Regions from separate parts of the Homo sapiens genome. Here region 1 is linked to region 2. The links come from fine-mapping of genetic effects on gene expression. A gene starts in region 2. The other region holds a variant in brackets. All regions are shown on one strand. Distances are from middle to middle. Region 1 overlaps LINC02030 (long intergenic non-protein coding RNA 2030). Region 2 holds the start of LINC02030 (long intergenic non-protein coding RNA 2030).

Evidence for each region. PIP is the estimated chance that this variant, and not a neighbour inherited with it, causes the effect. A credible set is the group of variants that fine-mapping cannot tell apart.
Region 1: its variant is the best candidate, but not a certain one, in a credible set for the expression of LINC02030 in skin (TwinsUK, PIP 0.76).

What each region holds. Positions count from the first base shown.
Region 1 is chr3:55,296,872-55,301,272 of GRCh38, reverse strand. LINC02030 (long intergenic non-protein coding RNA 2030) reads right to left here. Exons shown (of 6, transcript NR_183750.1): 6 at 326-2,019. The region is part of intron 1 of LOC124906243 (a long non-coding RNA gene); the gene reads left to right. Among named protein-coding and RNA genes, the nearest start is that of LINC02030, 72 kb to the right of the region's middle. The variant T/G (reference allele first, on the strand shown) is at 2,221.
Region 2 is chr3:55,225,130-55,229,530 of GRCh38, reverse strand. It overlaps LINC02030 (long intergenic non-protein coding RNA 2030), which reads right to left and starts at 2,676. Exons shown (of 6, transcript NR_183750.1): 1 at 2,563-2,676. All of the region lies in intron 2 of LOC124906243 (a long non-coding RNA gene), which reads left to right.

The DNA.
Region 1 (4,401 bases), 72 kb before region 2:
ACTTTCCTTCTATACCTAACCCATTAAGAGTTTTCAATCAAGAAATGATGGGCATTTCTTAAGATGACTTTGGCTGTGTTGTAGAGAATCCATTAGAATGAGCCCAAAGGTGGAATTTGGGAGACCAGACAGATTTTCAAAAGAGAGGTACTGGAGTGGTGGCTGTGGAGCTGTCCAGAAGGGCAAAGATCCAAGAGATATTTTGTAGGTTACATTGACAGGTTTACATGTGTTGGATATGGGACCAGTTCAAGAGTGACCCATTTTACAGATGGAAAATCAATGGACAGAGAGAGAGGCTGATTAACTCCCAAGGACACAAAACTGGTAAGAGAATCAATCTTTATTAGAGCAGTTGAAGAACTGTTGAGCAAGCACTTTTACTCTCTCTTTTGTGAGCATGAAGAAGAGGAAACAAAGAACCTTTGCTGAGGAAAATGGAACAAAATCTAAGAAGGAATAAATGTTCAATCATGGCTTTGCCAAGTGTGTAGAGGAAAGGGAAAGGGTCATTTTGGACAGAGGTAATTGCATATGAGCAAGCAAGAAAAGGAGGCTTTGAGAGGTGACAGAAACTCTATATCTTGATTGTGGTAGTAGTTACAGAAGTTCATGCATTCATTCAAATTCACTAAACTGCACTTAAAGTGGGTCCTTGTTAAAGTGCATATCTTGTGCCCAAATTTTGGTCTCTAATACCTTTGTCCACTTGAAAGAACCACAGTTTTTCAGAGAAATGGCTGATTCCAGGGCTGGAGCAGGAAGTAAAGAAGTGAGTTTTAAAAGGAAAGAAAAAGAAAGAGAAAGAAAGAAAAAGTGGGTATGTCACAAGGAAATAATAGCCAACTTGGAGGGGATCCCACTGGCCAAACTGGGAAAATTTGAGCACTAATATAATTAAAGATAGTAATAAATTATAGGCCATTGAGAAGAACAGGAAATCGTGAGTCCATACTAATAAAAACAATAAACATTTGGGAGAAAGGGGAGAGTCTTATCCACAAGAAGGCTGAATGTAGCTGGTAAATGTGGAAGAAGTGCTAGAAATGAAAATCTTCATTTTACATCTACCATAATAAAGTTTTGTTCAGGCAAGAATCATCAAAGGCTGCTAAATCCAGGGGGATATTTTAATGAGGTGCAGGATATTTGAATGGTCTCAAAGAATCTTCCCATAAATTGCTTATTAACTGCAAGAGAAATAGTAGTAAATACACAGGAAGAAATGGGATAGCACTTTGGGTAATCAACAGCAGCATCACCAATGGCCATTGTGTGCCCCCCAGATATCATTCTATCATTCTAGTTGTTCAATCCAATTGAAATCCAATTAAAATAGGATAAAAGCTAAAAATATCAAGAGAGAAGTCTCAAAAGAAAGAGGAAAATAAATGGCCAAGGGATTCGTTAAAAAGATGCTCACCCTGATAAGTGATCAGGAAAATGCAATCAAAGCAATGCAGTACTGATTTTTCTCAAACTGATATTTTTTCAATGATCAATGACACTTCATTTGGCAAGAACATGGAGAGAAGTAGGAACTTTCATACTGTTTGCATGATTGTCACTTGATAATATTTTTGGAGGACAATTTAGTGTTATTTTTCCACATTAAATATCCTTACCCTTAGACTGAACAATCTCAGGTCTGGGAATTGATCCCAAAATACATCTCTGATTGTAGGCACAAGGGCAGTTATTCCAGCTGATTGTAATAGAAAGCAATTAACAGCAGTATCAGTTATCTATTGCTGCATATCAAACCACTGCAAATGTAGCAGCTTAAAACAACACACACTTAGTATCTTTTTCTGTGGATTGAGCATCTGGGCAGAGCTTAGCTGGGTCCTCTGCTTAATGGTCTCTCACAGCACATGAAGATGTTGGCCAGGGCTGGGGACTCATCTGAGACTCGAATGGGGAAGGATCCACTTCCAAACTCATGGTTATTGGCAGAATTCAGTTACTTGTGGGCTTTTGGCCAGAGACTGCCCTTAGTTCCTTGCCACATGGGCCCTTCTGTAAACCAGCAAGAGAAGAGTCTGTTAGCAAGAGGCAAGTTACAATGTCTTGTACTCTAGTCACAGTAGTGACATCTTATCACTTTTGCTCCATTCTATTGATTAGAAGAAAGTCATGAGGCCAGCCCACTCTCAAGGGCAAGGGATTTCACAGGGGCATGAATACCAGGAGGTAGAGATCATGGGGAGGGGGTCATCT[T/G]AGAGCTTGCCCCCATGACAACCCAAATGTCCATTCAGAAGGACAAGGTTAAATAAATTATTATGGTAGCACCACACCATGGGAAACACTTCGGTCATTCATGAAGAATAACGTCAATTTAAGTGTGCACAGACTTGGCAAAATTTTCCAAACCTATTTCTCCCCAAGTCCCACTCCCCAAACCTATTGTTAAGTGAATAAAATAAGCAAAGCTAGTTTGCAGACAATGCACATATTGTGACACCATTTGTGTGGAAACACAATATTTTCCAAATGAAACATGTTTATGTGTACATATATATGCATTTATTACAAAGGAAAAAGCTTGGGAGGAGGTATATCTACTCTATTGATCATGGTTACCACTGGAAGCTGTGGGTTCAGGGTGGACGGAGGCATAATGGTCAACATTCTCATTTTATTCCTCATACTTATTGATTGTTTGGCTTTTGTTTTTTATTTTTTTACAGTGGGAGTATATTTATGTATTGTAGATTTTTTTTCTAAAATGAACTAAAACTGGGAAGCTGGGGCTTTCATCCAACAGTGTTAATTTTTGGAAGTGTAACATGTTATCCCTAAGTGTGTCCTGATTGTGCCTTTTTATTGTGCAGATTTTAACAGTTTGCTCGGTTTTCCATCCCAGCTTTATCTCAGATGTTTCCAACTACACTTGCAACAATGAGACCAATAAGGGCTTTGTTGTCCTAGACCCAAGAGCTGTTCTGGGAGTACCGGAGGAGGGCTGGGCTGTAGTGAGCTGGCAGCTGGATCCTATCGAGCACCCTTTTTTCCCAGACACAAAAGAAGAACCACAGTAGCCACCCAGAGTGGAGTCTGGTGCTGCGGGGCACTTCTGGGAGGTCACAGAAAGGGATGTGGGACAAAGAGTCCCTTTTTGTGGTGTGTCTTCTTGTTAGTTCCATGACCGACTTTGTCATCAGAAGATGAGCCCAGGCTCCCATGCTCCCATGATGGAGGTGCAGTTCAGGAGCAACCGCTCACTGGTGACCTTGGGTGGGCTGCCTCATCCCTCTGTGCCCCAGTGGCCTCCTCTGTAAAATGGTGATGTCCGTCCTATCACTCTTATGGGTTTGCTGTGAGGATTAAATGTGCTGATACAACTGAAGCACTTGGCTTAGTGCCCAGAACATATTAAGCACTCTCAGGAAGGTGAAGATCTGCTGCCATGCAGATGTTGTCTATTGTTACTAACAAAATTAGCATTTACTAAATCCTTACCGGTTCCTCTCCCCAGCTCTGTGATAACTGCTTTACATGCGTGGTCTCATTGAATCCACCCTAACTTCCGGTGTTAATTTTCCCATTTTACAGACAGGAACTCTGAGGCTCAGAGAAAGTCAGTTAGCCTCCCAAGTTCATAAGCTGGGAAGTGATGGTGCCAAGGTTTGAACTTGGGTCTGTCTGCAAAGCTTCTGCTCTTCACAATCATGCTTTATTGCTTTGTGGGCCTTAACACTCACATTATTTTGCTCTCATGATAATGAGAAAGCTTCAGGCACCAGAGGACTTGGGAACAGAATAGTGTACTTAGGAGAGGACTAGCTGGGATTTGCTGTGTAAAGATATGACAGAAACATGAGGATAAATGGTTGAGTGAAGAGTCAGTGTGGGAAACGGTCCAGAACTTTCTCAAAAACCAGTCCATCAAGGAGATCAAAATTAAACAAAGATAAATTGGATTTGACTTCCACAGTAATTCGCCTGATATGTGTATGTTTGTATACAATCTTTGTACTTAACAGAGACCACTCATTCTTGTCACACACATGGAATTTACAAAAATTGACCAAAACTTCCCTTTTCTATGGTGGCGTACTTAAAGGCACTGCCACAGAACTACAAGACTTCAGGGAGAATCATTCAGAAAGAGCTTTCTAGAATGCCTGTTATGGCCCATATGAGCTTCTAGATATGTTATATGGTTTGGCAGTGTCCCCACCCAAATTTCATCTTGAATTGTAGTTCCTATCATTGCCATGTGTTGTGGGAGGGACCCGGTGGGAGGTAATTGAATCATGGGTGTGGTTTCCCCATGCTGTTCACATGATAGTGTGTGAGTCTCATGAGATCTGGTGGTTTCTTAAGTGCCTAGCATTTTTCCCCTGCTGGCACTCATTCTCTCTCCTACAGCCCTGTGAAGAGGTGGCTTCCATCATG
Region 2 (4,401 bases):
AATTACAGAGAACATGGATATCACGGGCGACATTTCTAAGCTTTTCAAACTGTAGGACCCATCTGGACAATTTCAGAAAGGTTAGCCATGTGGTGTGTTCCATGTTACATAACCCATGCTTAATACTGCTGCTTGTGTTCCCAGACATTACCAAAAAAATTTCAGGACACTTTTACCCCAAGGTATCTAGAAAACTTATAGAAAGCCTCCTCAAAATGTTCATGTTTATGCCCAGGTTCAACATGTGAATCCTTCCATCACTTTCCTCTTTGAACACTCATGAGGGAATAGGGTCTTGTGCTCTCTGAAGATTCCTTTAGTCTTTGGCCTGCCCCCATGTCAGGTGGTAATCACCACTTTAAAACACTGAGATTAGTGCAGTAAAAAAGATTTATGAATATTAATTCTTTTTATAGCAGGTCATAATGTGAGCTAGAGAACAAACAGAGTATGGTTTCATTCCAACGCCTTACTGCAAAGAAGAATGGGGGTTGCACATTGTGGAAAATATTAGTTGGAGATGCTAGTTTGAAAACTAATTTATTGAGAATGGCTTTGGCCATAACTCGCCAGACACCCTGAATTTGTGGAGAATCTGTTCTAGAGAGTAAGGATCATGAATTTTATAAGCGTTGTATTGTTCACAATCAATAGCATTATCCAAAAAATTTTTAAAATATACTATTACAATGCAAACCCCAAAACACTACAGTGGCTCATATTAAGAAGAAAGATGATTCCTTTTCAAACTTTCTAGAGTTAGAGTTTACAAGGTTGAGTTTTCCCACTGGCTGGTCATTTCCCTACAACCCCATTATAGCCTTCACCTTTGCCCCTCCCTGAAATGATGTTTTCAGAAATCACTGGAGTATTCAATTCAGTAGCCTCTCCTTGCTGTCTTTGCAGTATTCTGACATCATTGACCCTTTCTTCCCTGACATTCTCTCTTCCTTTGACATCAGCAAGAAAAATCCTAGAAGGCTGTGTAACTGTAGTTAAGGGCACAGACTGGATTCAGCCGGGTTATCGGGGTTCCAATCTCAGCCCTATACTTAACTAGCTGTGGGACTTTGGACAAGTTAATTAACCTCATTGTCCTCATCTGTAAAGTGGGAGTAAGGGTAGTACTCACCTCTTGGAGTGGCTGTGTGTCCCCTGCCTGTTAACTTGGTCACCTTTGAGAATCAATGTTTAATTTTGATGCCCGAGCTAAGTCATTGGTTTTTCTCTTTAGAGTTTATGTTTTGGAGTCTTGATTAAGAAATCCTTTCCTATTCCAAAGTCATAAAGATATTATTTACACTTTCTTCATTAATTCTATACTTTTAACTTTCACATTTGATTCTTATTGCATATAGAGTTTATTTTTTATTTGAAGGGAAGTAGCAATTAAATTTTAATTTGCCATAGAGTGAGGTTATTTACCAAATAATCAGTTCTTTCTCTCATTGATTCGTGATGCCATTTTTGTAATATGCCAAGTTCCTGGAGGCACCCGGGAGTCCACATGAGTATTCTGATCTGCTACCTTTGTCTTCAGTCCTGCCCCTATTTTATTGCCATACTATCCTAATTACTACTGCTTTTTAATATTTCTTAATACCTGGCAGGAAGAATCTTCGTGCTCTTCTCTTTCAAAATATTATTTAATATCTACAGACCTTTATTTATCCATACATATTTTAGAATCTATTTTTTAAAAAAAACCTTGAAATTTAATTGGAATTGCATTAATTTTCAACTTAGTTTGAGAAATATTGATAACATTCTAATGTTGAATTACCCCAACCCTGGGCATGATCCTTATGTAGGCCTCCTTTTATGTCCTAGAATAAAATTTAACATTTTTCATAAAGATCCTGTGTAGTCTTTATTAAGTTAGCTAAGAGATAATCCCAGTTTAATTGATAATTCAAGGTAGAATTTTTTTTTCTCTCTTTTTTTGAGACGGAGTCTCACTCTGTTGCCCAGGCTGCAGTGCAGTGGCATGATCTTAGCTAACTGCAACCCCCATCTCCTGGGTTCAAGCTATTGTCCTGCCTCAGCCTCCCAAGTAGTTGGGATTACAGGTGCCACTACTACACCTGGCTAAGTATTTTTGTATTTTTTTTTAGTAGAGGCGAAGTTTCACCATGTTGGTCAGACTGGGCTTGAACTCCTGACTCAGGTGATCTGCCAGCCTCAGCCTCCCAAAGTGCTGGGATTATAGGCGTGAGCCACCGGACCCAGCCACAAGGTAGAAAATTTGACAATTCAAATTATCTTATACTTTTGAATAGAAATTTGCTTTAGTAGGTGCACATTAGTAGTGTTATTGATTTTTATTCTCTTATTGTTTTCCAAATTTTTTTTTTGTTTTTGTTTTTGTTTTTGTTTTGAGACAGAGTCTCACTGACTTTGTCACCCAGGCTGAAGTGCATTGGCATGATCTCATCTCACTGCAACGTTAGCCTTCCTGGTTCAGGCAATTCTCCTGCTTCAGCCTCCCTAGTAGCTGGGATTACAGGTGTGTGCCACCACTAACAGCTAATTTTTATATTTTTAGTAGAGACGGGGTCTCACCACATTGGCTGGGCTGGTCCCAAACTTCTGACCTCAAGTGATTCACCCATGTTGACCTCCCAAACTGCTGGGATTACAGGCATGAGCCACCGTGCAGCCCCAGATGTTTTGAATAATGGTTGTTATGGTGATAATTCTTTTCTTTGTCCTGACCTGAAAAAAAATAGTTCTAAAATCTTGTAAAGCGTATTCATTAAAATGATGTTTTCAATGAATTTTGATAGATAAACTTTATCAGATTACGGAAATTCCTTTATAGTCTAGTTTTCTAAAGTTTTTTTTTCCAGAAATGGATGTTGAACTTATTTTTGGCTTTTTTAATTTTTTAATTTTTAATTTTAACTTGTATGGGTATATAGTAGGTGTATATTTTTATGGGGAACATGAGATGTTTTGATACAGGTATGCAATGTGAAATAATCACATCGTATAAAATGGTTCATCCATCCCCTCAAGTATTTATCCTTTGTGTTACAAACAATCCAATTATACTCTTTTGGCTATTTTTAAATGTATAATTAAATTATTATTGACCATAGTCACTCTGTTGTGCTGTCAAATACTAGACCTTATACATTCTTTCTAACTATTAATATTTTTTGTACCCATTAACCATCCTCATCTCTCCATGTTGAAATTTACTGCATGCTTTCTCTATTACTATTGCAACCTTAAACTTTATTAGTCTATTAAAAAGAAGTTATATTGCTGGGTTTTCTTATTTTAAGCCATCCTTGAGTCATGGTCATTTTAATATACTTTCAGAAATAAATAGGATGTATTTTATTGAAGATTTAAAAAATTAAGTTTAGAAGCTGACTTGTGCTATTATTTTTGTCATGTACTTGTTTCGTGTGACTTGGCTGTTAGAATTATACTAGCCTCAGCCAGGCGCGGTGGCTCACCCCTGTAATCCTAGCACCTTGGGAAGCCAAGGCAGGTGGATTATCTGAGCTCAAGAGTTTGAGACCAGTCTGGGCAACACGGCAAAACCCCATCTCTACTAAAATACAAAAAATTAGCCGGGCGTGACGGTGTGCATGTGTAATCTCAGCTACTCGGGAGGCTGAGGCAGGAGAATTGCTAGAAGCTGGGAGGCAGAGGTGTCAGTGAGCTGAGATTGTCCCACTGCACTCCAGCCTGGGCAACAGAGTGAGACTCCATCTCAAAAAAAAAAAAAAAAAAAGAATTATACTAGCCTCACAAAATAATCTGTCCAGACTTCGTCATTTTTGACTTTTTGGGACAACATGTATAACAACTGCATATTCCTTACCTCATCTCTAAAACCCTCTATGCGTGTCATTTTGGAGTAGGAGCGAATTGATTATCACTTTAATTTCTTTAAATAATACAAGTTTATGTACATTTTAACATTTTTTATAAACATTGTTTTTTCTAGGTTTGCAAATATATTAGAATATGACTGATATTATTTAACTTGTCCCTATATTTATTCCGTATTCTTTATTTCATCTCCCTTTTTCCCTGTTTTTTGAAAAAAACTGTTACCAGAGAGGGTTATTTAGTAGTCATCTAAAAAGTCTGACTTTTGTGTGTTAAGATCTGTATTTGTTTATTGTTATACTCATCTCCATTTTATCGATTTATGCCTCTTCATATTGCCATATTTCTTATTTGGGGAGGCTTGCTCTATTTTCCTTTTTCTACCATCTTTAAATAACCACTTAGCTTATTAATTTTCAATCTTTATTTTGAGAATATATTCAAAGCTATAAACTGTCCTCTGAGAACTGTGTTAGCTACATCCCACAAATGCTGACATAAATGGCTTTCATTGTCATTAAGCAAGAAGTCTGCTGCAATTCCTCCTTTTGT